Regions from separate parts of the Homo sapiens genome. Here all the other regions are linked to region 1. Evidence: fine-mapped expression QTL. A gene starts in region 1. Each other region holds a variant in brackets. All regions are shown on one strand. Distances are between the middles of the regions.

Region 1 (10,404 bases):
ATATTTAGAATGACAATAAAGCAATATTTTAAGAATTTTTGGAGGAATAAATAAGAAAAAGAATGAATGACATAATTTTTCTAGTTTACTATCTTCATGAAGAGATAAAATATCTGTAGGAAGTGTCATGAACACAATTGATAAGTAATGTACTCCAAGAATACAATGAGAATGTACAAAAATAATCTGTAAAGCATTAAGACAGGTTGAGCAAGATTGTCATTTGAGTCCTGTGGAAAGAAAATCAGACTGGTATTTTTTTCTAAATGCTTTTCAAAATAACAATGGAAAAACAATTAAAAACTCCAAGCCTTGCTCAATGCCACATTATGCAGATAGAATAGGATACTCTCAATTTTCTTGAATTTATGCATGAAACAGTTTTTTATCTTTACATAGAAAACAATGACTTGTCTGTGCAATTTTTCTTGCTTTGATATTCTAAAACATGAATATTCTTTATTAATTAAAAAGGTGTCCATGGTTGCAGATGAGTTCCCTATAAAATATCTCTTGCTAACCAGTAACCAAGAAAACAGAATGCTTCATATGATTTTGAACGTGAACCTATCTCAGCAATCCTATTACAAAATCCAATTATGCTTGTCTCTGCCTTTATGTTTCTTTCGAATGTTTTTAACGTACTTTTTCATCTCCACCTCAGGCAGTCAGGGCTCCTTTTCATTTCGCCTTCCTCAAAAACTTCTATACTTGAACCTCACAAATCCTGGAATTTCAAAAACTAAAAGGTATTTCCCAATTAATTCATTAACAGAACATGTTGAAGGTATAACAACTTTTGCTTACTCTGAACAGAATGGAGGAGTTAATACATTTCTTCCATCTGAAAAGAAATTGTAAAGATCTAAACTTTCTTTGAATATCTACTTGCTCTCAAATAATTTGGTCAGTTGTCTTACTTTAACTTGAAAACTATATTCTTAACGTACGTACACAATTCTAAAAAAAGTTTTAGTCTCAGTTAGAAAAGTCATATGTAAATAATTAGAGACAGTAACTAATTATTAATGTCTTTTTAAAAAATGTTTATGTATATATAATTTCATCTGTTCTAAAAATAATTAGGCAAAGCAATCATGTTAGAAGACACTTCGCTCTGATAAACTGTTGAGATGTTAAAATCAGGAGAAATTGGTAGAATTACAGAAACTACAGTTTGGAAGTAACCTCAGAGGGCATCTCATTTAACTGGCTGCCTCATGGATTGATGCCTTCAGAAAGGTTTAGGAGTAGTGACTGTGCAGTTTCTGCTTCAGTACTTCCAGAGAAAGAACACTCACTCTTAATACAACCAGGCTTTTCAGTTTCTGGAGAGCACAGTTAGAAATCTCTTTCTATTCTTCAGATCAAGGTCTACTTTATAACTCAAACAGTAGAACTCCCATATATTTTTGTAAACAACTTTACATTTCATAGCTTAAAGTTGAAATAAAAATGTGCATCCGTGGCCCTAACTAGGATAAAGTAATATTCAAAACCAAGAGTGGCATCTGACATTGTTCACTTTTGAGACTGAGTTTTGTTTTTGTTTTTTTAAATCAGGCAATATGGTAATCTGTTAGCCTAAGAATATCTATACTTACATGTTCAAACTATAGAATAATTATTTCTTATAATGACTGCCTAGTAGACTAGAACAACTAGGGGGCATGTGGAAAGTTAAGAAAAATCATATTACTTGAGGAATATATGGCTATATTAGTGTGTGTGTTTGCATGTGTGTGTGTGTCTATATAAATGCTTGTAACTGTGTGGATGTGTCTGTGCAGATTTTATGTTGTCTATAGATGTGTCTGTGTGCATGATGAATAAGAAAGGAGTAGAAAGTAAAGATTTATTGTTAGCTCTGACTTCTTCCTTGCATATCATTTAAACTTAACAGCAAATAACACTGGAGAGAACACATTTGACTGTTATACCTGCATACTTGAATCATCTGTGTTCTTACTTGAATATGGGACAAATAGATATTTATAAACAGCTTCAGGTGAATTGTATATTATGTTGAATATGTATATTAGATAAAATCCAAAGATTTTTCTGATGTCATGTTGTGTGTTTGTTGGGATGTGTGGGGTTTTTGTGTGGGGGTGGATAACAATCATTTCTGTTTGGGGAGCCATGCAATTTGACCACATGTAGCCAAGTTAAAGATTGGGACTCCCAGCCCAAACTAAAAATTATGGGTTTTTTTGTATAGAAGAAGTAAAAGATTTTGCCTCCAAAATGTTAAGAGAAAATGAATAGATTTTGCAAGCACATACTATTACCTTCTGAATATCATATTTTGAATATTTTAAAAATTTGGAATTGAATTTTAAATATCATTTATACATTTGAAATCTATGTTTTCTAGATACCCAGAAGGTAAAACCAAAGGATTCATAAAAATATATTGGCAATTTTACTAATTAGAAGTTCTATACACAAATAAGTGAAACCAAAGATATGAGGCTTTTTAAAAATCATTATTATTATAAGAGCATAGATTTGGTTGTCTTTGTTCTATTTTCTGTGCTAAAATTGCCAGCCATCTTGAATATGGCATCTATTATATAATTTATATAATTTGAATATGCCAAATAGTAAATGGTCAATTTTATTTTATAAAAAAAAGCAATTATTGAATTTTATGTTTTCCATTGTCTAAATATATGCTATTGTTTGCCATACAAGTTTAGAAACGTTAAAAAGACAGTTATAAGAAATTAAATCTTTAAATAATTACAGGCTTTGGAGTTTTTTTCTTTCCTTTGTGTTCTTTTCTATAGCTTTTAAAGTTTCTTGGATAGAGGACCCCCTATTTACTTCTCTTGGCTTTGATATTTTTTGGACTCATTGCACTTAGAGCATACTCTCTGATACATTGCGGTTTACTTAAAAAAAATTCTAATCTGGTGCTCCACACCTTCCTATAACTAACTAGACATTTAGCCTTATAATTTACATAGGTTAAGATATAAATCTTGAAAAAGAATATGCAATAACATATCAGACAAAATAAGCATACTTAAAATACATAAAAGGACTCCTAAAAATTGTCTATTAAATGTCAGATAACTAATTGTTTTAAGTGCAAAAGAAATAAATGAACATGTCACAAAAGAAGATCTAAGAATGCCCAATTAACACATGAAAAGCTGTCTAACAGCTTCAGTCAATGGGAAAATGCAGATTAAAACCACAATAAGATATTGTTGTCCAAAGAACCTACAACATTTTACCCTCCCACCAGCAACGTATGAGATTCATATCTGTTTTACATCTTCACCAACATTTTGTATTGTCAGTACCCCCCAACATTCTTTTGGATGTGAAATAGTATTTTACTGCTGAATAATATTCTTACACATTTCTTTTCCTGTGAGAGTTTCTTATAAATATAAATTTACACTTATTCCGTGGTTAAGCAATCCCACCCCTAGGTGTTTTCTCAAGAGAAATAAAACAAACATATGTTCACAAAATGAATTTTACAAAGTATCATGATAGCCTAATTCCTAATAGCTAAAAGTAGAGTACTCCAAACTTCCATGAACAGCAAAATTTTTAAAAATTTACTTTTATTCTTATTTTTTTATTTTTAACTCAGCTTTTTATCCCAAGTCAAGAACTGCTAAACAAATTATGGCATAACAATGAAATGGAAAGCTACACAGTAGCAAAAAGGAAAAAAAAATAGGAATGCATGCAATATTATGGATAGATTTAAAAATTATTATGAGTAAAAGAAGCCACTTTCTAATGTTGCTGGCTATTAATTTTTACAAAGACATTTCTATCACTTTCTACATAGTTCTAAATATGTGCTATCCAGTATGTCCAATAGCTATATGTCAGCGGCTATTACCACCAACAAGGAGCTGTTAAGAACTTGAAATATGGCTTGTGTGATTAAGAAAGTAAATTTTAAATTGTATTTAACTTTAATTAAATAAATGTTAAGATTAAATAGCCACATGTGACTAGTGGGAACTATACTGGACAGCACAATTCTATATCTCGTTTAGAGTGGTAGTTAAATGGGTGTGTACAATTGCCAAAATTCATCAAGCTTAAATCTGAGTAGTTTATTAAATTTATATTATACCTAAAAAAGGCAAAAAAGTTGCAATGTTTATTTGTGAAAGTTTCCATTTAAAAACTAAAACAAGAACTCAAAATTAATGACATAGTTTTGAGGGCATATTCAAGAAGGTAAGAAGAATAAAGCTTCACGTATCCTTAGAATTCAAATAAAACCCGACAGATTAAAACATTAAAGGAGAATCTCAGACCTAACTCAGTTTCTGTCTTTCCAAACGTTACTTTATGTTTATTTCATAGGTGGAATGTTGTACAGTGTCATCTGTTGCTACCAGTGAGTGACATCTGTGATTAATCGCATTGCCTTAATTAAACAGCAATTGCCTGGATGTGATCACCTGCAGTGGCCAGCCTCCAATCAGATTAGCTCCCAAACTCCAGTTCTCTCATTGCAATTAACTTCACTTTTCACATAGGTCCCCAGAGAATTTCAATATGTCTGATGTCAAGAACGGAAAGTGAGACAGCCAGGTGGGAGGGGGTCCCTGGAGAATCTCCAACCAGCCTGCGCACTGGGAATGCGCACTGGAGTGAAAATACAGAAGTTGGTGCCCTTTGCAGCAGCCAGGAGTCCGACTCCTCCTCTTCCTGTGTGGAACCTGGAATTCAAACGGCTGGGTAGGAAGCACGCTAGCAGGGGCCTCTGGCCTTGCTGAGGGTCCCTGTTTCCCCTTTTCCTTCCTTTTCACCCAACAAAACCCTGCTTTACTCACCCTTCAAACCATCTATGAGCCTAAATTGTCGTGGTCGTGGAATGGACAAGGACCCAGTCTTTAGCTGAACTAAGGGAAAGTCCTGCTTTTTGGCGCGCAACAGGGGAGCTCAAGAAACAGTGAGTGAAATGGGGACTCAAAACCTCTCACTGTTGATCCTAAGCATTTTCATCCTCAGACTACTGAGGGTGGGGGAAACACGACCCCAAACTCCGTTGCTCCGTTGGGGGTCGTCGGGGGAAAGGCCTTTTCCTTCCTTTTTCAGGACAGACAGGAAAGCCGGGGCTCCTCACTCCCCCTCCCCTCTGTGCCCGGGACGGGATGCATGGCCCAAGGGTCCCACACAGCTGGCTAGATGGTTCTCAGACACAAGCCACCGCAGCCTTCCTTTTCCCCTGCCAGGGGGTTAAACTTTATCAGAGAGTAATTAAGCTTTAACCCTGCTGTTGAAATCACTTGCAGACGAATAAGAAGTTCTTCCCCAGGCATTTTTAAACCTTTTTTCACTCCCCTTTTCCACCTCCTCAACAAGTAAACCCTTAAAGTTTTTTTTTTGTTTGTTTGTTTGTTTTTTTTTAGAAGACACTTTACTAGGCCACTCCCTCTGCTCCCCAGCTATCACTGTATGCTCTGCAAAGTTTTGCTTGTGAAATAAATCCTCTATTTTGTTTTACATCCTGAGGCCATGGCTTATAACTCTGGCGGCAAGGATTTGTTTAGCAATCCTGCCTTAGGGGATGAGCCCTCTCTAATTCAATATCTGCATGTCCCCTGTCTCTTAAAGGGCCTCACTCACGGCATATGGAACTAACCACGCCCCTAACTAAGAAGGCACACCTTAGTTGCAGTTAGCACACAATTAAAGCAACTCTCCAAGTTTTACCTTAAAGTTCAAAATTGCTAGGAGTTGAAACTACTAGAAATATATTTACATGCAAGGTGAGTAAGAACAGTAAAATGTGTTTTTTAATAAAAGGTTATAAGAAGGCATGGAAATGTAAACTTTTGCCTAGGGTTAAAGGATTGTTTGAGTTAAATTAGGAAAAAGCTGAAGGTTCAAAGAAGTGGTGGGAGAACTGTGGAAATTAATCTTGCAGAAGAGATTCTATGTGAACATATTGACTAAATTCAGAAAAGGGTATTGTTTGGTTTTTCTGTAAATTGAAATAAAAGCATAACAAGATTTTCCTAAGGTGCTAATCTGCTCTTTGGCACATTTGTAAAGGGTTATAACAGGTTTTTGCTTCTTTAAAATTTCTGAGTCATGATTTTGGCAAAATAAATAACTTTTGGTAACCTGGAATTCTATTTCATAATATCAAGTTATTTAAACCTCAAACATTTAACAGCCTTCCCAAAATCAAACCTCAGTTTCAAAATTGTCTTCCCTGGCACCTGGCTTTTCAAATATGTCAGAGGGCCCCTGAAGTGTCCAGAGAAGAGAGGTAAACAGGATTATTTGACATGTTTAGGTACATGGGATTGCAAAAATTATGCTCAGTCTTCTTTAGGTTGTATCTGGGTGAATAATCCTAATACATGTTCCAAAATTGTATGAGATTTCTAGAATTCTAATGGCTGAATATATGCTATCAGTCATAATTAAGGTCGTTATGTTAAGTTATTGTAAACCACGGAGATAACCAAGCTTCTTTGTCAATCGTGTTTCTAACTGTAAGTACCCTGGACATTTTGCTATTCACAGACAGTTGTTGCCTTGTTTAATCCTTCTCAAAGATGGTTTATAATGAGCTATAGAACTTTAACAGGTGCTCTCAAACACAGGCTTCTGGTAACTTTGGAAATTGTAACATTAAAATAAAGAAAAATATACAGGACTCATAAGGAGCTGAAATGCTCACAAATATCAAACAAAACAAGAGTTAACTAAATGGACTGAACTCAGGAAACTGAAACCAGGCTGGGAGCGGTGGCTCACACTTGAAATCCCAGCACTTTGGGAGGCCAAGGCAGGTGGATCACCTGAGGTCAGGAGATCAAGACCAGCCTGACCAACATGGCAAAACCTTGTTTCTACTAAATTAAAAAAAAAAAAATTAGCCGGGCATGGTGGCACATGCCTGTAATCCAAGCTACTTGGGAGGCTAAGGCAGGAGAATCACTTGTACCCAGGAAGCAGAGGTTACAGTGAGCAAGATTGAGCCATTGCACTCCAGCCTGGGTGACAAGAGCGAAACTCCATCTCAAAAAAAAAAAAAAAAAAAAGAAAAGAAACTGAACAAATCTTTTTAACCTTTGCTTGGAATATTGCTGATCCGTGTTTTGTTTTTCAGAGTCAAAGAAACTTTGAACTATTTATGGCCTTTAATAATTAAGTAAGGTATACTCCTGTGATCAAGACTTGGAGCATATTTGTTTCTCTCTGCCTGGTTCCTCTAGAAATTGGAAACTATCAGTGAGTATTTTTATGACAATATAGTTGTTTGCATCAGTGCAGTAAGAGTCCATTTTCAATGGCGGAATTCTTTTCTCACTCTTTTCGTTGTTTAATAATTATTATAGCAATAATAATAATAATAAATACCAATTATTACATTAACTCTCTGCATGTCTATGTTCTTATTGCATTTTCTTATAAGAACACAAGACGTATTGGATTATGACCAACTCTAATGATCTTATTTTACCATTTTAAATATCCTATCTCCAAATACAGTCACATTCTGAAGCACTGGGAGTTAGGATTTCAACATAGGATTTTGAAGGGGCACAGTTCAGTCTGTAACAGTGGTTAAAAACCCAAGTTCAGAAACCAAATTTTCTTTGCACAAATTGCAGTTTTGCAGATTAGGAGATATGAGACTTTGGCAAACTTGCCAAGACCTTGGTGACACTCTTTATGTCTTCTTGTTCTCATCTTTAAAATGAGAGGTGAAAGAGGATTAAAAATTATTACATAAAAACAAAAGACTTAGGATGATGATGAAATGCTGGTAATATATGTTAGATATTAGTATTTTTTATCTCAATAAATTCAATTGCTGTAACTCTTGATTCCTCATCTTGCTACTGTGCAATTGCCCTCCTCTTCCCTCAGTGTCACCCATCAAAGGGTAGATAGTCTCATTACAATTCTTACTTCTATATTTCTTTTCTGATTGATCAGTTCCGCCTCTTTATTGACACTGGGATTTATATGCATTGACTTAAAAATGGAGAAACTACAAGCAGCATTAGAGGCTGTTTTTTAATTAATGAGTCTCTCCGCTTACACCATCAAACTGAAGATTAGCTGTTGATTTATGAGATACCCTCAGCTTGTATCTTGTGCCACATCCAGATCATTGCCAATTCATTTCCAGAAGGAGGATCAGTACCATTATCTGCTCAGTATCTCTCATTTCAAGCACCTCTCAGAGAGAGAACTGAAACATCTTTATCATTACCAGCAGTAAAGCTAAAGCAAAAAGCTATTCTCTGAAGCCTGCTGAGGGGATGAAATTTTTCAAAAAATACATCTCTGGGAGATGGGAGAAAACCTTTTCCACACCTTCCCTGAGAGAAGCAAAAGGGATGTGAGAAAGGGAGGCATTCTCTTCTGCCAGGGTAACATACTCCTCCTATAGTAATCCCACATCACTGAGGGCCCAAGTTCCCAATGCTTCTGCTCTTTATTTCATCTAGACAGCCATTCTTTCTTGCTTTTTTTTTGTTTTTTTTTGAAACGGAGTTTCACTCTTGTTGTCCAGGCTGGAGTGCAATGGCGTGAACTCTGCTCACCGCAACCTCCCAGGTTCAAGTGATTCTCCTGCCTCAGCCTCCTGATTACCTGGGATTACAGGTGGCTGCCACCACGCCTGGCTAATTTTTTGTATTTTTAGTAGAGATGGGGTTTCACCATGTTGGCCAGGCTGGTCTCGAACTCCTGATCTCAAGTGATCCACCTGCCTTGGCCTCCCAAAGTGCTGGGATTACAGGCATGAGTCACCATGCCTGGCCAGCAGCCATTATTCTTATACACACCCACAGACCTAGAGAAGTTAGTTTGAAGTTTCTGTCTGTGCCATATGCTACACTTGAGACCAGTCCCATTCTCCACTTTTCCCATGATGTGAGTGTCAAGTTTTATCCAAGCCTTCACTCCAAACTCATCCTCTGATGCATTATTAGTTCTTCCTTCTAGAGCCCTGTTTTCCTTTCTTTACCAAGGAACTCCTTCCTTTCTTGAACAAGTTAGTATCTGGTCCCATTCATCAGAGCTATTCTGATACTATTGAGTCTATATAGGGTAAGGGTTAAAGCTTGTATTCTTTAATTACCCAGGAAAGGTTGCATGCACTATCACAAGCAGCTGTCAGGTACAATACAGTATCTGGCATGGGTTGGGAGGTAGAGGGTAGGGGGTATTGTTGAAGACTTTGCTAAAAAAAAAAAAACTTAGGTTTTACTGAAGATGCAAATTTAGTCAGTAAAGGGAGGGATACAAAATTCTCTCCCCATCTGCTCTTGGTTCATATGTTACTAAGCTTGGAAAAATTAGATGATTTTTTTAACCAGTGGTTTCCCCCCATTTTGTATTCATCTGTCTTATAAACCAATGGTTTTATAGGGGCATATTTTTAACTGCATGGAAATAAGAATATGTATATAATGAGTTTGTTTTACATGCAAAGTTTAACAGAAGTCATAATATTAAGAAATACAAAAAATTTGGAAAGAATCTAATTAAATTAAGAAGAGAAAATAATAAAAAGTGAAACTATAGGACAACAAAAAAATAAATATGTGGTAGTTGAGACTTCAGGATTAATTAATTCATTTTCAATACTTTTTAACAAAATAATTGTTATATCTACTATTGATTTAGAATTTACTAGGAGCGAGGCATTTCTCTAAATTTGTTTATATTATTATAAATCTTTATAAGTATAATATAAAAATTACTATGTTTATTTTACTATATTTATTTTAAATAATTTATTTATAAATTCACTATATTTATTTTAAAGATAATGAAAGTGAGGAAGTCACAGAGCGATTAACTTTATCACACACAGCTAGTTAGTTGTAGAGCCATGGTATGAATCTGAATCTACAAAATTCCAATTCTCTAAATTTTTTTCTAAGTTGTTTTATGTTTAAGCTATAGTTCTTAGTAATATATTTATATTGTGTTAATTTTTAACACAGCAGTATACTATCTTTTTATGTGTTATTGTTAATAAAATTATATGGCCTTCAAAAAATGTTTAAATATTTTTCAAAGCTTTTTTATATATATACATATAATCATTAAATTTATTTGTGATTTATGTGGCACAAAGACAGGAAAGTATATATATGACAACAGGTAAAAGAATAACAAATCTAAAAATATAATAATGGCAAGAAATTAAACGAATTTCAGAGGATATCATTTTATATTTAAAAAATCAAGAATTAAAGTTTTACAGTATAGAAAAAGAAAGACATGTAATACAAAAGCTGATGAATAGGAAGATGGTTGATAGAAAAAATAAAAACGATGTTGAAAAATAAAAATAATGTCAGAAATAAAATACCATTGTAAATTAACAATTAGAGCAACACCAGTATTATCTTAACGTAATGAAATTGTATAATT
Region 2 (10,404 bases), 210 kb after region 1:
TATACTTTCTCACCAACTGTGCACAAGTCCCCCTTTCTCCACACCTTCACTAACACTTGTTATTGCTTGTCTCTTTGATAATAGCTATTCTAATAGGTGTGAGGTGATATCTCATTGTATAAAAAAAGCTGCTAATTGAAAATCACTTTTTTCTCTTAATTCTTAAGGTGCTTTTGCCAAAGTGTTGTGCAAGACATTAACTCAATTTTAAATAGACTCTTAAAAGTTCCATAACTTAAGCCTCTTCTTTGAAAGGAATTTCAGTACAGTAAAAAGTTCGGTGGAGTAGTGAGAACTCTAAATTGCTTTATCAACAGATGTAATATGATCAGAATAATTTGGAGATCACTGGTGAAGAAAGCTAACATTACACAGGCTGACATCTAAAAAGTGAAATAAAAATATGACCACAATAATTTATGTTTAAAACTTCCACCCCCTTTCTGCAGTTATATTTTAATATTTGGTTTTATTTCTATCCCTATGAGCAGATTCATGTTTAGATAGACTACATGATATTTTTTTTCTAAAAATCACCCATATCAGTATTTTGCAGTGGCCTATTATGAGAATTACTTCTTAAATATAGATTTTCAGTAATTTAACTTTCTTCCCAAAGAAAGATTAAAGACAGATACATTTCTATCAACTCAAGTAAGACCTTTCTGCTCTCATCATTTACATTTTCCCCCTTATCCTTCACACTGATTCTTAAGTTCCAACTATGTAGACCATAGTATTATTTCAAATGTTGATTTTTAAATGTGACACAAAATAAATGTTCAAAATGATACACAATTAAAATTAATGTAAATTCACATCACTGTCAGCGGATTATAGAAACAGAAATGGTGCATGTCATGTGCTTAAAACATAAGGAATAATGTTATTAACTAAGAGAAAACAAAATTTATAGCTTACAAGTCATTTTAAGTATAGATTTGTTTTGTAAACACTGAAAAAGCTAAGCTGTACTAATTTTCTAGGTCTGAAATGCCCTTATTTACTTATTTAGACTTCAAAACATAAAAATAAGTGCCTCCAAAGAAACGATAAAATTATACTGCCTTTAAATTCCAAAATACACCTTATTGAATTTAAAATATATTACATACAACTAGATCTGGAGGTAAAAGACAGTCTAAATTACAACTTAAAGCTATGTTCATTTCATGATATTTTTAATAGCATGATAAAAGTTAGATCATCTAATTATTTTTCATTAAATCCATACCCATTAATAATGTATGCTTATTAATATCAGAATAATAAAATAAAGAAAGGAAAATAAGAAGAGATTTTTGTTTTACAAATGTATTTCACTTTATTTACTTTTTATTTATTTATTTGAGATAGGGTCTTATTCTGTCATCTTGGCTGGAGTTCAGTGGTGTGATCATGGCTCACTGCAGCCTCCATCTCCTGGGCCCAAGCTATCCTCCCACCTCTGCCTCTCGAGTAGCTGGCACTACAGGCATGCACCACTGTGTGGGGCTAATTTTTTAAATTTTTTATAGAGATAAGGTCTCTATGTCTATGTTGCCTAGGATGGTCTCGAACTCCTGGCTTCTAGCGATGCTCCCACCTCGGCCTCCTAAACTCCTGGGATTCAAGGCGTGAGCCACCATGCTCAGTCAATTTTCTTTTATTTTTAGCAGCTTTATTGAGATATAATTCATATCCCATACCATTCACTTATTCAAAATTTGTAAGCCAATGGTTTTCATTATATTCATAGATTTGTGCAATAATTACCATGATCAATTTTAGAATGTTCTTATTACTCCCCAGGGAAAAAAAAATTTCACCCAACCCTGTCTCCCCAGCCCTAAACACACATTAATCTACTTCCTGTCTTTACAGATTTGCCTACTCTGAAAATTTAGTATAAATGAAATCAAAATAGGCAGTCTTCTGTGACTGAGTCTTTTCACTTACAATGTTTAAAAGGTTCTTTGATGTTTTTGCCTATAGCAATACTTCATTCCATTTTATGGTTGTATAATATTCTATTTTACAGTACAAAATTATATATGCATATATAATTTAAAAAAATTTATTCATCAGTTAATAGGCATTTGGTTATTTCCACTTTGATTATTTTGAACAATGCTGCAATGAGTATTTTTGTACAAATTAATGTGTGGACATACATTTTTATTCCTATTAGGTAAATGTTTAGGAACGGATACTGGCTGAGTCACATGGTAACTTCATGCTGAACATTTTGGAAAATTGCCAAACTGTTTCCCAAAGTGGCTGAACAATCTTGCATTCCCACCAACAGTGTATGAGATTTCAAATTTCTCCACATTCTCTTCACCACTTGTTAGTTCCTGTCTTTTTGGTTATAACCATCTTAGTAGGTGTGAAGTGGTATTGCATTGTGACTTTGATTTACATTTCCCTAATGACTAAGGATATCAAGCATCTTTGAATGTGCTGTTCACCATTTGTAAATTTTCTTTGAGAAAAAGTCTATTCATTTACTTTGCCAATTTTCTGATTGAGTTCTTGTCTTAATTATTGAGTTTTAAGATTTCTTTATGGCTTCTACTTACGAGTTCTTTATCAGGTATATAATTTGCAGATGTTTTCTTTATTTTATAAATTGTTTTTTAAATTAATGTTCTTCAAAGCAAATGTTTTTAGTTTTGATGAAGTTCAATTTGTTTTTGTCTTTTGTTTGTTCCATGTGCTTTTATGTCATATCTAAGAATTCATTTCCTTACCCATGGTCATGAAGGTGTAATCCCATATGTTCCTTTAATAATTTTATAGTTTTACAACTTATTTTATGTATTTGACCAATTTTAAATTGACTTTTGTTTATGATGAGAGAGAGACATTCATATTTATTCTTTTGCATTTGGACATCCCATTGCACAAGTATTATTTGTTGAAAAGATTATTTTTCTACCATTGGATGGTCTTGACATTCTTGTTAAAAATCGAATAATTGGCTTGTAAAAACTATACATTATTTAATGTATACAACTTGTTGAGTTTGGGGATAAGTATACACTACAAAACCATCACCATTACGACCATGAACATGTCCATCTTCTTTCTAACTTTTCTTCTACCTCTGTGTGTGGTAAGAAAACTTAACATGAGATCTACTTTTCTCTTCTACTTTTCTTCTTTTCTGTTTATGCCCTAAAGTTTACTGTCTTAGTGATAGCAGCTTAAAATAAGTAAATATTTGGTAGGATGAGTTCCCTACCTTGACAATATTGTCTTATTGCCTTAGACATTTTTGCCTTTTCTATTTCTTATTAATTCTTATACTCACCTTTAACTTTTGAAGTCTCATTTTCTCTCTCTCTTTTCTCTCCCTCTTCCCCCACACCATCTTCCTCTCTCTTTCTCTCAAACACACACACACACACACACACACACACACACACAACACAAGCACACAGTCACAAAGTTTCTGATAGCTTTTATAATAAAGATGCATAATAATCTGGATGAAATGTTCACTTCGCAAAATAGAAATAATCCATTCATAAACATTGTATACACCACCAATTATTTAGGTCTTATTTTATGGTTCTCAATGATTTTTCTATATCAAGAGGTTTTTTTTCCTTTTTTTATTTTTAATAGAGACAGGGTCTTACTATATTGCCTAGGCTGGCCTTGGTCTTGTGGCCTCAATTGGCCCTCCCACCTCAGTCTCCCAAGTAGCTGTAATCACAAGTGTGAGCCACTGCATCTGCCTATACCCAATTTTTGCATATGTTTTATTAGAACCATTCTCAGGTACCTTTAGTTATTATTATTATTACAAACAGTGACTTTTCTATAATTACATTTTTAGCAATTCACTGAAATTTTATTCCATTTCTCTGTTCTACCACCCTGAGAAATAATTAGCCTTCCCTTAGGATATCAAGACTTCTAGAATTCCAGATATTATAGCCAGGTATGTCAACATCTGGTTGATAAGGAGGGCCTTTTCTCCTAGCAGTCACTTTTAATTACGGATGGTACCCTTTTCTAGAGTATCACAACTGGTTTGCTGTTGGGTTTCTTGACTAAGATCAGGTCACATGCTAATCATGTCCAGCCATAAAGGAGAATGAAAATGTAAATATCTGAGTTTTCAGATGCTACACTAGAAAGTGGTTCCTTTCAATTGAGATGGGGTGGTGGTTATAAATGTTGGAAAACAGTAAACAAATATGAGTGAATGTTACAGCTTTCTATTTGAGAAAGCTCATTGCGATAGATGTTGATGGTGGCACCAGCCTGTCTAGAACAGCCATTGTGGGGATGCCAGCTGCTGTGCAGGAGGCACTGCTGAGGCTGCGTGCTTTGTGGAGCCAATGGGGTCTGGGAACAGGCGGGAGCTCCACCCCCTACTGAGTTGGTGAGGCGAGAGCCCCACACTCCTGGACACAGCTGCAGCCGCCCAGCTGCAGCTCTGGACCAGGGCATTCTTGCACTCTTGGGGGTCCGGGAAGCTCCCTGCCCCCACAGGCTCAGAAGTGCCTTTTCCTGCTCCCTGGCCTCTCCCCACTCTTGGTGCCCACTTCAATTTTGAAGCAAAGTTGAAGCTGAGCCCATGCACTATCATGACCTGGCAGGTGTGCGTGCCCTCGGGGAGGCGCTGACACTCCAGGTCTCCTGCTGCCTCAGCCTCCTCTGAAGCTTTGGACAATGAAGAGCTCAGGGAGGGAGGCTGGAGGTGGGATGGAGGGGCTGAGGGACGCTCAGCACAGGCCTTATAGGTGCCCTTTGGGGTGAAGAGCCTGGGCTCCAGTAACAGCATGTTGATGGCAGCAGGAGGCAGACAGGTTCCTAAGTGGAAAGGGGTGGGTCCCTGGTGAAGCCCCAGCTTCAAGCCAGGGGTGGCCTGAAGCCTGGGAGCCGGGCTGCCAGTTCTAGGTAGAGTCCGTCATGGAGAGTGAGAACTTATGGTGCTTTTTCCAGGCCCATCCGTGGCTGCCCATGGACCAATCAGCATGCGCTTCCTCTCTTCTGAGCTCATGAAAACCCTGGACTCAGCCAGACTTGCACACTCGTCAGGACAACATCCCTGCAGAAAGGAGCTACTTGCCATGTTTCTCCTCTCCTCTGTGAGCTGGAACCCCATCAGGACAACTTGCCTATGGAAAGGAGCTACCCACTTTGGGTCTCCTGAAAGCTGTTTTGTCACTCAGTGAAGCTCCTCTGCCTTCCTCACCCTCAAATTGTCCATGTATCT[C/T]GTTCTTCCTAGATGCAGGAAAAGAACTGGGACCTGCTGAATGGTGAGAATGAAAGAGCTGTAACACAAACAGGGCTGAAATATGCCCCCTGCTCACCACATTGTGAGTGATGAGGAGAAAAGAGCTGCAGCCCTTCTGGGAATGCAGACATCAGGTCTCCCTGAACTAGGGCTGTGGCACTCTCTTTGGGGCTCTGCTTTTGGGCACCATCGCATTCCCCTTGTCTAGATGCTGGTGCCCACAGCCAAAGCTGCTTTTAATATGCCTGGTCTAGCTTCAGTCTTCCATGGAGCTGGTGCCTGTGCCAGTGCCTGGAACCGCCCACCCCTCTGCCACAGCTGGAGCACCTGGCTGTGTGCAGTGGCTGGACCCTGCACTCACTTGCTCACACATCCCTCACTGCTCCATGCCTGGCTTGCCCATGGCAGTTAGGGGATGCGGCTGGTAGCACAAGCCGAGCAGGGGCTGCTGGGCTGAGTGGGTGGAATGAGCCCAGCGAGCACAAGCAAAACCTAAGCAGAGGCACCACCAGCCACAGAGGTTTCTGGCTGGCAAATTGACACCCTAGGAATCCCATGACAGCCTGGGCTCCCTGGTTGCCCACTGCATTCTGGGAGAGCTTAAGGATCCACTGTCTTTAACATCAAGTTTTCTAACCTATATCTGTTGAGACTTTTTAAGTTACATCATTTCAGAAACATTAACCATTTTTCCGTCAGAATCAAAGCCTGAATTCCAAATCTTTTGGTACCAGTAGCATATTTTTACAGTAATTTTCATTTTTCAACCCTGGCCGTTCTGATTTTGTAGTGTACCAGCCCCTACTCTGGCATGAGATGGAAAGGCTAGGGAAACTAGGGGTTCAAACATTGCATTTTCAGCTGTTTGAGATAATATAAGCTTTGTGTTATGATTCTGCAGGAAAATAAATAAGTAGATAAATAAATAGCACCAAAAAATAACCATTAAATGTCTCTGAGGGGCAGACTAATGATAAGCCATAAATTAGGGCATAAATACATTGATCAGCTGGCTACTAGCAAACCACCAGAACTCTGCCGCTATCTGGAATGATAACCTGTGGGATACAGTCAACTTTCTGCCAGAGCTCCATTTGAGCTTGAGCCTGTCATACTCAGCTGATGCCCAAGTGACCCCTTCTCTCATCTTTCATTCATTTTTCATGCTTACATTTTCATACTACCCTGCTTTGTTCCCTTGCCACCTCTTACTTCCCTCCAGAGGTTTACAGCCATAAGTCAATGGCAAAAAAAAAAAAAAAAAAAAAAAAAAATGCCTTACAATACAGTGCCTCAGTGTAAGATTTAGAAAAAGCTAGAAAGATGACAAGTTGAAAAGATGTTCTCACCCTTGTAATGGGCTGACTCCTGAATCTGTGTTACCTTCTTGTACAATTCACTGACCTATTTTTCATTTGTTTCTTAACTTGGTTTTAACTTTGGCCTATTATTCTAAAGTTGGCTTCCAGAATCCAATCTCTATTCTAGTTATTCATTCTTTACTCAAATATAGTTTTAAGGCCCAGTCTTTGCCTAGCACACAATTGAAATGTTGACCATAATACCCCCTTGATATCTTTCTCATGCTTTATTCTCTGTGAAGAATAGCAGCGTGCACCTTTGTTTATTCCTCATGAATAAAAATATCAATAAGAATATATGAGTGAGAGCATAGTATGTATTTTATAACACATTGATTTGTCCTGTGACCCTAGGCAATATATATTTTATTAAAATTATACAACAATGAATTCATCCTGTTCTTCAATAATTTATCTGAGTAAATTCTTTACAATGGGATTTTTTAACACGGAATGTCACAGATAAAGCCTGGATCGTCTCATCAGAAATTTTTTACAAATTATTAAATGAACTGGCTATTACTTGGACTCACGGTTTCTAACCTTCAGTCTCACTTGGACTTCTAAGGATGCAACTAACTCCTTCAAACTAGTGAGATACAGAAAATGTAGCTGCAATACTATAGTACAACATTAACACTCCCATGCACAAAACTGAAAGGGATCATATAATACTGGTGTGTCTACGCTGAGATGACATATTGCACGCTAACAAACATTGCAAAATCCAGCACATCAAGAAAATGAAAAATTGTTGAATAGCAGGTGATTGGAATGTTAGATGCCAATGAGATCCAGGTATTTTGCTAACTGTTCTAAACACATTTCTTCTGTGAAGAGGAAGCAATACAATGGTGATTGCTTCTCTTCTGTGCCTGCCTTGTATCACACTTTCAAAAGAAAACAGTCTTTTTAACCATAATTTACAATGCATTATGTAATTGGCTGCTGCAGTGAATATGCAGAAAGTATTTGTTTAATTTAGAATTTAAGAACTGCTGAGCTTGGTCCAATAAGTGTGGCAAGACAGAACTTCTATACTTTTGTTGAAAGTCAACATTCCACACTCAATACTTAAGCAAGTCCCTTCAATATGTCAGTTTCACCATACATCACTTTCTTTATAAGTTGAGTTCTATTAATGACAGTTTTGATGGCCATTTATGAAGATGAGCTCTTCATAATGCCTTATATATATCTCAACTTGTGCTGTGGATATGCCATTATGTAAGTCATTTCCTTGTATTTTTAACAGAAGATGAGCAGTTCAATGATACTGATCGATGTTGGTGGCTTTTTATATTCTTCTCTAATGAATAATGTGAGGTGCTAGTGGTGCTATGTGTTTGTGTAAGCATATTCATATATATATATATATATATATATATATATATATATATATATATATATGAATACAGAGGTGGTTAAAATATTAAGCCAAGTATTCCCATATGCATGTATGAAATTTGTTTTAATATTTTCATACAATTTTGGAGTCATTATTAGTGCTATTTAAAGATGACTTACCCTTTAAGATATTTGGCCAAATACCTAAAAATTTTCTTACATCTTATCTTAATCACTTCCATCAGATTAACTTGTAAGTCACAGAATTTATGTTATCAGTAATCAGAAAAGATTAAAAAATATAATTTGGGCACCCACTAATAACTCAACTAGGCATCAATACTTAGCCAAGCAGTACTACAAACCTCAAGATCCCAAATCATTAGCAGCAAATCAAGATTGAGAATAAGGACCATCTCCTAGTCATTCCTCAGGAAAGGTTGGGGCTCCTGCATAAATTTCCAGGGGTCTTTTAATATCCAATATTATGGAGACCTATTCACATTATAATTTCTGAACATCAACCACTCTCAGTTTAACTTCATTTATGACTCTTTGCCCTTAAGAGAGCCAGTGACCAACTTCAGGCAGGGGTAATTCCATTTCTCTGAGGAAATCTGTTGTACATCCCATAGACATATTCAGTCTTCTCCCACTTTTCTGCTTCCATCTCCTCATCTGATGTTTTCCCTCTTTACTTCCATATTCCCTATTTGCCAATCATCAGATACCCCACCTGAGTTAGGGTATCATTTCATTGTATTTTATTACCATCAGGTAACTGGCAGGAATATCATGAATTTTTTTATCCTTTAAGAAAAGGATCCCTTATTTCTTCAGAATTCTCTTATCTTTTTTCACCTATGTTTTAAGTATTTTCCTTTGAGATATTTAGCTAATTTGACATTGGTTCCAATTCCCACCTGGTTAGTGGAGATAAGTCTCTCTCATTCCTGGTATATTTTACACTTTTTAAACCAATGTTATTTGCTTTGCTCTCTGTTCTCTGAATCATTTTTCAGTTTTTACACAAGATAGAGCAAAACACAGAGGTACGTAATTTAAATAAACCTGCAACAACCCTAGGGAGAGATATTGTTATACAAATTTTATAAACATAAAAACCAAGTTTAATAACCCACCCAAAGTCAGGCAATTAATAGATAAATGGTACAATTTTGTATCGATTTTATCTCATTTTAGTATCTAAACCTTTCCTATCAGTAAACAGTTTCTCAGGATTTGAATTAATATCCTTAACTGTTCCTTTTCTATCTTCCCCACTAGTACACTTTGACCTTGCTTGGCAAATTTGCATAATAATATCTGGATGTAGCATCTTTTTCTCTGAGGGATATATATTTGCTTATCATTTGTCTTCTGCATTTTCTATAAATACCAGAATTTTTTTGCTAAGAGAACTGGATAATAAACACTATGGAATCAGAAACATCTAAAAATTTTTTTAAAAATTAATAAAATTTAGTACAGTGAGCACAAAATAAAAGTAATTCTGTGACAGCGACTTTAGCAGGAGACATGAGTCCAGTAAGCAAATCTGACTGATTTGTTGAAGCATTCTGCCTGCAGGTCAGTGTTGCCTTGCTTGTTGAAAAGCCCACTTTAACCCCCAACTCACTGAAGGGTACGTTACAGCCTGCTTCATGAAATGTAAAGTTTTCAGGTATGGATGTTTGGCATTTTCACAAATGAGAAATTTGAAATGTTTACAAATAAAATATGCTCCAAATGACAAATTCACTTACAGGAGGGTTAGAAAGCATCCTATTTTGACAGCTAATTTTACTCTGCTTACTATAAGGAAATTTTCCTGGAAAATCAGAATCTTTGGAGCAATATCTAAGTTCAAATCTTATATACTGTGTCCATTATCAATATAAGCTTGGAAAATTAAACACCTCTGAATCAAGTTTCCTCATTTGTAAACTAAAGACTGTTTACTTAGTTATGATAAGTGAAAGACATCAAATACCTCAGTGCTCAGTTAGTAATAAATTACTTTCTCACATTCCTTTCAATGGGGACAGGATATTATTCCATGGGCCTTATGGGTAAACAATTATCTTACATATGTAACCAGCTCTTAGTATAATGGAGCCAGGAGAGAATCCTCCTAATATATGTACTTCACAATTTTTTCCTCTGGCTACTTGTTTTAAATGAGAATAAAATTAAGTAAAATAGCCTAACAATTCAAAACTAGACCAGCAATAATGTATTTTTAAACCCTGGAAAATTTACTTATTCATCTTGAACTCCAAATTTCTCACTGAGATAATATGTTGTTTAAACAAAAATGTCTGTAAGAGTCCATAAAGTGACAGAATGAGTGAATGTGCAAAGAAACTATTCCAAGAACCAGGAAAATACAAGAAGAGTTAATAATAACCCAAGCAATTAAAATGATGCATATCAGGTACTGGGGATGCTTTAGTGTGC
Region 3 (10,404 bases), 180 kb after region 1:
TATAGTGAAAAAATTATTTTTAAAAATTTTTCTCCTATTTTCACTTGTGTTGTTTCCACTTTTTGAAACTTTTTTTTTTTTTTACTTTTCTTCTTTTTTGTTTTTTTCATTCATTTATTACTGCTTTCATTGTCTTTCTATGTTGATAACTGGGAAAAGTGTATAAGGTTAAATCTTGGGTTACTAAGGAAAAGCTATAGAAAAGAATCATATGCGGCCAGGTGCAGAGGCTCATTTCTGTAATCCCAGAACTTTGGGAGACGAAGGCAGGAGGATCACTTTGGCCCAGGAGTTTCAGAACAGCCTAGGCAACATAGGGAGACACTCTCTACAAAAAAATATGAAAAAAATAACCAAGTGTGGTGATGCACACCACACCTGTAGTCCAACTTACTTGGGAAGATGAGGTGGGAGGATCAGAGGAGCCCAGGAGTTCAAGGATGCAGTGAGCTGGGATCATGCCACTGCACTCCTGCATAGTTGACATAGCAAGACCCTGTCTCAAAAAAGAAAATAAAGTAAGTCATGCTATTAAAAAATATAAAATGTATTAAGCTAACTCACCAGATAAAGAATGGAAGAAATCAGTTGAAACCTAAGAAATAATTAATGTCATTCAAAGATAATTGGTGAGAGTCAAGATAATTTCTAATTAATAATTGACATTTTAATAGAAGCAGATACAGTAAAAAAATAAATTTAGAAATAAGATTTTATTCAAAGGAAGCATATTTTGACTTTAAAAGGCTAAACTCTGTCAGAATGTATTATTGTTGAGTGAAACAACAATTAAATTTCATTGTAGACTTAAGGAAAATTATTACATAAATATCATGCTAGTTCTGATGAATCCACTTTTCAGATGCTTTGCTTTACACTAATTGGCTTATGTTTGCCTAAGGATTATGTTTGAATGCCATCACAGTAATCTTGCTTATTCTTGTATTTATACACACAATATATTTTTCATACATATTAATGCTATGAATGAAATAAACTGTGTCATTGCTATTGGCAAAATTGTGTGAGAAAAAGAAATCTCGAAGGAGCATTTTTCAGACCACATTAATATTTTCCTGTGTCTGTCTCATTCTCCATTTGTATACAAATATAAAAATGTAGCTTTGAAGGTGATTTCTCTACTCAGGCAATGATTTTCCCAAATATCCTGAAATCACATGTTACCAAAATTCATATTCACTAATTGTTCTTTTTCTACTCTCCATACTTGCATATTTGTCTTTTGTGAAGTATTACAAATAACATATGACATATGATTATTATTATTTAGAATGTTCAGGTAAAACTTTTAATGATCATCTACAACCACTCCATATTCATCAAATACTAGTTACATGATCTTGCAGATTTAAAAAATCCAATATCGTTTAATTGTTAACAGTGACTAGTTATTCTTTTTAATATTTTCTTGTATTCATTATTGCAAATTCACCTAACACAGGTATTATGGAGGTGATAATTAAGTTTGGAAGATTGATTTTACTTTCATGACATCTAAGCATATAGTCAACAATGTTGTTAATTGAGATAAAGTAAGCATAATGATTAGAAACTCAAGTATTTAAACCAGTAATCATTCTCAGCTACCAATATTGTCAGACTTACTGTTGATGTTTCAGTGCATATGTCAGACTCATATCACCTGCAAGGTAATTTTAAAGTAAAACTGGTGAGGATTTAGATAATTATACGTTGATGAACATTTTCATAAAGTCTGATACAAAAAGTAAAAACAAATGAGGATGTAGTTTGTTTCTGTTATTCTTGAAACAGCAAGACAGAGAAACGATACTCTTCATAGGGCTACATATATATATATTTTAAGACAGAATCTCTCTCTGTTGCCCAGGCTGGAGTACAGTGAAGTAATTTTGGCTCATTGCAACCTCTGCCTCCTGGGCTCAAGTGATTCTCCCACCTCAGCCTCCCAAGTAGCTGGAACTACAGGTGCATGCCAGTATTGTATTTTTTTGGAGACACGCCTGGCTAATTTTTGTATTTTTAATGGAGACACAGTTTCACCATGTTGGCTGGGGTAGTCTCCAATACCTAACCTCAGATGATTTGCCTGCCTCAGCCTCCCAAAATTCTGGGATTACAGACATGAGCCACCGCACCTGGCCCATAGACAATATTTTTTTGACTTGCATGAAACCAAAAACACATATAAGACAGCGCACAGCAAAAATTAGAGTGTACTAACTCAAAACTTTCATGGATTTGATTCTTTGATAATCCATCTCTAAAATATTTTCAAAAAGTATCTCATTTATGGGTCCAGAATACTTGCCTGAGTGCTCTCTCAAAGACATCTGATCTTTTTCCATGTGTGACCTCTGACAAGCTCATGCATGAAACCTAAACCACTGTCAGATTCAAATCAATTTAATTTAATACTACGTTTTTGGAAAGAGGAAAGTATAAATGTTTCATGTATGAATATTGTATATCAAATATACAAAATCATCAACTGATTACCAAAAATATCAACTTATGCCTGGTAGGGTTGAGTAGAGAGATTCAGAAATAGCCATAGAGAAACATTTTATAAGATATTCAACTTAAAAAAATCACTGCAGTTATTAATTACTCCAAAACAAATGTGATCATTTCTAAAAAATTGGAAACTAATAGGATTACAGAAATTTTAATCCACTACAGAGTGTTTAATACACATATATTCTGAGCCTATCAAATCAGCTATATACTAAGAACACATTTGTGTGAGTGTGTATATTTTTATACATAACTTTAACAAATATAGAAGTATTTTTATAGCCAAATTATTACTCTGTTTTGAAGGAAGTAATTTTTTTGGACTACATTATCCAATTATATTGCAATTGTTTAAACTTTGCTAATGGAAAATTTCTTTCAAGTTTCAGTAGGGCACAATATTTAGATTGAGTTCAATATCGATTATGATTATTATTGAATGAATATTTCATTTGAAAATAGCCAAGACATTTAAAACAGAAACAAGTCTGGTAGAATATCAGATATTACAGAATTCTCTATATCATACTATAAATACTAAGTTTGTCCTAAGAGCAATGTGAACTGACCAAAATGTTTCAAGTGAGAAAACTGTAGAATAATTAAATTGCATTGTTCAATAATGATTCTTTCTGGAATGAGGGGACATAATTAAAGAAGATAATGATTTGCATGAGTAATTATACTGAATGAAACTAGTGTGAGATCATTGATGATTGAAGAAGTTGATTTGAGAATTATTAAAATTTTTAAAAATTAATTTTTTTTGAGGCAGTGACTCGCTCTGTGACCCAGGCTGGAATGCAGTGGCACTATCTCAGCTCACTGCAACCTCTGCCTCCCGGGTTCAAGTGATTCTCCTTCCTCAGCCTCCCGAGTAGCTGGTATTACAGGCACACTCCACCATGCCCAGCTAATTTTTGTATTTTTAGTAGATACGGGGTTTCACCATATTGGCCAGGCTGGCCTTGAACTCTTGACCTCAAGTGATTCACCTGCCTTGGCTTCCCAAAGTGCGGGGATTACAGGCGTGAGCCACTGCACCTGGCCTAAAATTTGTATTTTTAGTTGACAATAATTGTATATCTGAGAATTTTAATTGACACAACTCAGTGACCTACTATAAGTAGTTGGTGAAAGAAAAGGACTTACATATTTCTGGATGGAGCAACTATGTAAATGATGGCAGCTCTCATGAGATAGATAATATTGGAATAGAAAAACATTTGAGTAATATAACGTGTCATTTATTTCAAATATATTAAGTTTGAAGTGTGTAGTATGCAATTTAATAGTGAATCTGAAACTCAAAAATTGTTTACAGTTGGTGTTAAAAATTCAAAGTTGTCAGAATACGGTTGATGGTGGAAATTGCTGGAGTCAGTTGGTTCACTGGGGGATATAAAGACTGAGAAAAGATAATTACTTAGAGTATATAGAATCTCAAACATCTGATGATTACTCAAAGAAAGAACAAGCAAATCAGACTGATAAGGAGTTGTCAGAGAGGTGAAGGAAGACATTGAGATTATGCCATTGTAGAAGCCAGAGAAAGATGGCTCAAGATTTTTTTTTAATCAAATGGTGCTGAAATCTAGTAAAAGTTGTCTTACAATTACTTTTCAATAGAAGCTTTTAGTAGAATAACTAGATTTGAAGCCAAAGAGGTGTCTTGAGAATACGGTGGAGATGAGAAACTGAAGACAATGAACAAATGAACCATTAAATATGTCAAAGAGTTTCTAAAGAAGAAGAAACAGATAAGGCAGTAAAAGATGTATTAAAAATATGTGAGACAGAAGTTTTTTCAAAACATGGATTTTACTTGAGTCTGCATAAATGCTGCATAAATTAATATGTAGAGGGAAAAAGATGGGGGGGATAGAAGAAAGAGAAAACTGAAATTAGGGAAACATTCCAGAGCATAGGAAGACCTGGTATTGAGAAGACAGCTGGGGGAGGGTCTTTATTTAGGAACAAAATGCAAATCAGTGACTTATCTCATAACATATATGAAATTATTCCAGATAAAAAAATTAAATGTAAATAGAAAATATATTTACATACCAAAAGAAAATATTGATAAATATTTAAATGATTTTTAATGAAAAAACTTGATGTAATGGTTTTTAAAAGAATCAATAGATTTGACTGTATAAACTATAATCTATAATATGTCACAAATGCCATAAACATAATTCAAAATAAGTAGTAAAATGAGAAAAAAATGCTAGGTATATGAATGCTACTAATATAATATCAGAGTAGATATTAGAATGTATCTTGTAAATAAGGGCCACATGTGATGATAAAACCAGAAACAAATGAAAAAACAAGGTTCGTGGGAAGAAAATGAATGCCTAGAATGTAGAAAGCAATAAGAGAAAGATGTTTAGACTTAATGAGAAAAAAAATGGATAATCTACCAAAATAGACATTTTTTAAAACTCATCAGTGATGAGGTCACAATAAAACCAGGTATGTTGTTCGCAAATTTCCAAGTTCATACATTTCCTAGT[T/TCACACACACACA]CACACACACACACACACACACACACATATATGTCTCATATATATATACCTGAATGTATATAATATATATATTTCTATCTCTCTCACTGTCTATCCAAATATCTATATCCTCATTATTTGCCAAGCCCATTTTTGAAGATTTTCCTACTCACTAAAATTTTTTTGTGAAAACAAAATTAATACTTGCTGCACTTTCACAGTCATTGATGGACATGTGCAGATTGGCAAAAATGTATTACCCAAAGTACAGGTTGCCTACTGAGGTCAAACCAGGAGATGCTCTGCCTTCTTGTTTTAGTTCTTACACTATAAACAAGTGTCCTTTTGGAATTCTACTTAGTGCCATACCTATTACATTTTTATACTTTGGTGATTTGGTTGTTTAGAATGACCCACAAACATAGTGTTGAAGTGGAAGGCTGAGATGTGCCTAGTAGAGAGTATATGTTTGTTAGATAGATAAGATTCATTCAGGTGTGACACATAGTGCCGTTGGCCATCAGTTCAATATTAATGAACTCTCTCTCTCTCTACATATATATATATACATATATATATATATACATATATACATATATATATATATATACATATATATATATATACATATATACATATATATATATATATACATATATATATATATAATTTTTTTTTTTTTTTGAGACAGAGTCTCGCTCTGTCATCCAGGCTGGAATGCAGTGGCACGATCTCGGCTCATTGCAACCTCTGCTTCCCGGGTTCAAGTGATTCTCATGCCTCAGCCTCCTGAGTACCCGGAACTACAGGCACCTGCCACCACACCTGGCTAATTTTTGTATTTTTAGTAGACCTGGGGTTTTGCCTTATTGGCCAGGCTGGTCTTGAACTCTTGACCTTGTGATCCACCCATCTTGGCCTCCCAAAGTGCTGGGATTACAGGTGTGGGCCACCGTGACTGGCCAACATTATGTATTTTAAAAGATGTCTTCAAATAGAAACACACATAAAATAAGGCCATTTATGAATCAGTTGAAAATAAATATAAAATCTGGTTATATGAAAATATAACCAGAGCTCTCAGGGCCCTAACCCTGTGTTTCCCTTAGGAACAATGGTTTAGTATTTGCAAATTCAGTGTTTGCAGCAACTTTATATTTCCTAACTACCATGAATAATAAAAAATGACTCTAAATAGAATCATGTGTCACTTAACAATGAGGTTACTTTCTGAGAAATATGTCCTTAGGTGATTTCATCACTGGGTAAACATCACAGAGTGCACTTACACAAGCCTAGATGGTATGGCCTCCTACACACCTAGGCTATGTGGTATAACCTATTACTTCTAGGCTGCAAACCTGTACAGCATGTTACTCTACTTCACACTGTAGGCAATTGTAACAAAATAGTATTTGTAGTATCCAAACATATCTAAACATGGAAAACACACAGTAGAAATAAAATATTATAATCCTATGGAACCACTGTCATATACGCTGTCCATTGTTAACTGAAACACCTTCATGTGTTGCATGACTGTAGGTGACTGGTAGCTAGCTAGCTAGATTGGTAGCTAGATACATATATGTTCATACATAAAATAGTGAAGATACAGGTGTTTTATTATTTTTATATCTTTTAACTTTCTACAAGGAGCTGTAATATATTGACTAACACTCAACAGTTTACCTGATTAAAAAAATGTGTTTGTGATTGTGTATGTTATGCAATCATATGAATGTGTTTGGATATGTTTTTGACTGTTTTCCTTACAAAAAAATTGTAATTTTTCTTTGTTCTCGAATTTCTGTTTTAGCACAAGATTATTGATGATTTCTGTTTCAGAATTGATCTGTGGTTTTCAAAGTATGTTCCCTGAACCAGGCATCAGGATCATCTAGAAAGTTGTCAGAACATTCTCAAGCCTCACCCCAGACTTAGTAATTCAGAATTTCTGGGTGTGGGGCCAAGCAATACATGTTTTAACAAAACTCCAGGTTATTTTGACACATGCAAAAGTTTGAGAACCACTGGTAGGAATCACTGAATTGGCCACACAGATATCTGGCAACATTCTGTTACCACAATTTAAAAGAAGAATTGTAATTTTAGTGGAATGGTAGACTTTTGTCTATTGAATATTTAAATCCTTTATTTGACAACATTTTAAATAAAAATATGATGACATCCTCAGAAAATGCTAGTCATATCTCAACTATATGTTTCTGAAAATCAATTTTTTTCTTTCTTTTATTGCAGCTAGAATTATCAGGAGATAGTTCTTTTAAAACTATATGTAGACTCCTTTAGTCAATAATACATAATGACATACCATCTGTACAATAATGCAACATGTCACATACACAATACAAACCCACACCTATGTACAAGCATGAAACTCTTCTTATTTGGGCTATTTGATGGCAGGCATTGCCTCTGGCTAGTAATTTCCAAAATATTTATTTGTAGCAAACTTTATTTTGCTACAAGAAAAATATAAAAACTATTGTATAAGCTACTTTTCAAGGACAATCTTATATAAACTCATTAATACAGCATGCTTTATTTTGTGAGGATCCTTGCATGTGATATGAATTCTAGTTCATTTCTATTCTACAAACATTGCTAATAAGGGATTTAGAACAAGGAGATCAGAATAACTGTAAATGTTGAGAACAACAGTTCAGACACTCAAGAATACTAACAACTACAAAATATTTTCAGATTTAAAAACAAACCTACATTTAAGAGCTTCTAATAAGAATATAATTTTAAAGTCTTGGCATTTTCCTGAAAGAACACTGATTAAAATAAAATACATCAGAATCTGCTTAAGTACAGTGCAACTACTTTAGATAACCAACAGTAACTTATTTTTAACTAATTTTAAAACTATTTTATATGTTTTTCGCAATTTTCATCATGCCACTGGCAAGTTATATGATGAAGCCAAACCTCAGCAGCTTCTTGGGCTAAAATCAATAAGCCAGGGATCTTTTGTGACTTTCTCCGGGTTTTAAAAATGTCTTATGAAGGATCATCAGCCTCAAGTCTAGACACCTCTAAAGGACTTATTTTCTTAAAATGTCTGCACACAGACCTAAAGGTAGAAAAAGACCTGGTGTAAATAAGAGCTGTTGGAGTTAAACCGATAAAGTCTAAGGTTGCAGTAAGCATGATGATAACCCTTGTCAATGTTTTGCAAGATTATTTACCTTTCTCTCCTGGAATTCTTTCATAGGCAAGGAAATAAAGATTCAGTTTGCTGGTGATAAGTAGGTCACCAAGAATTTAACGAAACCAAAAGCTGGGAATTGAGGAAAGGAGAAGCTGTGTGCTGAGTTTACAGTACAAGAAGCTGTGGTTTTGCCCAAGTTTTAGTATTTCCAATTTGAAACCAAATAACAGAAAATTTGGTATTTACAAATGCTACCCATGTTTCACTGTGTTATTGAGATGGCTCAGTTATTTTATTAAGTGGATCACTTCAATCCAGTTAAAGAACACTCTTCTACGGTTTTACTGCTTTAGATTATTTATCATCAGGATTTCTCAGAGCTTCAGATCTACCTAGAATGTTTCTGGGCTTGCATTTCTATGAATCATAACTCACACATATTTATAATTCATAAAACCTGCCAGGAACTGATCTGTCAAGTAAACATTTTCTGAATTTCATTATGCATATAAAGGACAGACTCATAATATGAGTAGAAAACAAAATTGTTATCTCCAGAAGATACCTAGACACATTTTAATTCATTTGAAGGAAACTTGCTGTTACAGTAGAACTAGAACAAATGGTTCATACAAAATTACCTACTTGCTTAGGTACAGTGCAGTAACTATTTCAGGTGACTAGGAGAACTTCAAGCAAGTTTTTGTTCTGGAAAACTCAAATGGCCAGAGAATACAGTCATATGTCCCATGTTGACATTTCAATTGAAAATGGACAGCATGTATGACAGTGGTCCCATCAGATTCAAATACCATATTTCTATGTCCCTTTTCTGTGTTTAGATATGTTTACATACATACTTACAATTATGTTATGATTGCCTGCCATATTTAGTACAGTAACATGTTCTACAGGTTTGAAGCCTAGGAGCGATAGGCTCTATTATATAGCCTAGATGTGTAGTAGGTTATGCCATCTAGGTTTGCATAAGTATACTCTGTGATATTTGCACAGTGATGAAATCGCCTAAGGATGCATTTCTCAGAAAGTATCCCCATCATTAAGCAATGCATGATTGTACAGCTATGCTAATTAGAATGGTCCAATAAGTCAAATTGACCTGAAAGTCATTAGTAAGAATATGAAGTGATGCAGCTTTCCAGAGTATTTCTTACTAACACTATCAGATTTTTAACATATTTCAGGATGATGCATAGCTAGGGCAAGTAAGAATTGGGAGAGGGGGAGGAATAAGATATAGAAACATCTTCAAAAATGAAAGTATTTTATGTAATTTCTTTTCCAGAGTCCCTAATGTATTAGGGAATAACCTAAGTGAGCTGATTAAGCTCATTAAAAATACTACTAGCAATGAATGACAGATTTAAAGGTTTTACATTAATTCCTAATTTTTTGATAAGTTGTCCTCATATTTGCGTACATATTTTCTTTTTCTTGTCTTAGAACACTATTAAGTTCAAGAACATTTTCATCAGCACAAAAGGAAACTCCATATCCTCTAACCAGTCATTCTCCATTTCTCCCTCCCACTAGCTCCTGGAAATCACTGATTTGTTTTTAGTCTCTATTGATCAACCTATTCCAGATATTTCATATGGAACAATATGAAATATATTGTTTCAAATGGAACAATATAATATGTGATCTTTTTTGTCTGGCTACTTTCAAGTAGCATACTTTCAAGCTTCATTCATGTAGTAGTATGTATGAGTACTTTTTCTCTCTTTATTGCCAAATTCCATTTTATTTTTCCATTTACTGTTGATTAACACTTGGGTTGCTTTCCACTTTTGGCTATTGGAAATAGTGCAGCCATGAACACATGTAAAAATTTTTGTTTGAGTACTTGTTAATTCTTTTGCTTATATACCCAGGAGTTGTATTGTACAGTTATATAGTAATTCTATATTTGGCATTTGAAACTGCCAAACTATTTTCCACAGTGGCTGTCCCATTTTACATTCCCACAAGCAATGTACAAGTCTTCCAATATCTCCATAATTTTGGTTAACATTTTAAAATTTTGGTTCAGTTTATTATTTAGTTATATCATTGTTTACTCACTTATGTATTTCAGAGACAGGGTCTCGTTCTCTTTTCCAGGCTGGGGTGCAGTGACACAATCATGGCTAACTGCTGCCTTGAACTTCTGGGCTCAAGCAGTCCTCCACCTTCAGTCTTCCCGGT

The links.
Region 2: its variant is fine-mapped to the expression of LINC01515 in caudate (GTEx, PIP 0.98).
Region 3: its variant is fine-mapped to the expression of LINC01515 in prefrontal cortex (ROSMAP, PIP 0.95).

The regions. Positions count from the first base shown.
Region 1 is chr10:65,565,821-65,576,224 of GRCh38, forward strand. It overlaps LINC01515 (long intergenic non-protein coding RNA 1515), which reads left to right and starts at 5,605. Exons shown (of 6, transcript NR_120647.1): 1 at 5,605-5,759; 2 at 7,115-7,236. RefSeq lists a silencer at 1,118-1,318.
Region 2 is chr10:65,774,601-65,785,004 of GRCh38, forward strand. All of the region lies in intron 5 of LOC105378339 (a long non-coding RNA gene), which reads right to left. Among named protein-coding and RNA genes, the nearest start is that of LINC01515, 210 kb to the left of the region's middle. The variant C/T (reference allele first, on the strand shown) is at 5,216.
Region 3 is chr10:65,745,122-65,755,525 of GRCh38, forward strand. The region is part of intron 5 of LINC01515 (long intergenic non-protein coding RNA 1515); the gene reads left to right. It overlaps LOC105378339 (a long non-coding RNA gene), which reads right to left. Exons shown (of 7, transcript XR_001747476.2): 6 at 1,627-1,663; 7 at 460-496. Among named protein-coding and RNA genes, the nearest start is that of LINC01515, 180 kb to the left of the region's middle. The variant T/TCACACACACACA (reference allele first, on the strand shown) is at 5,037.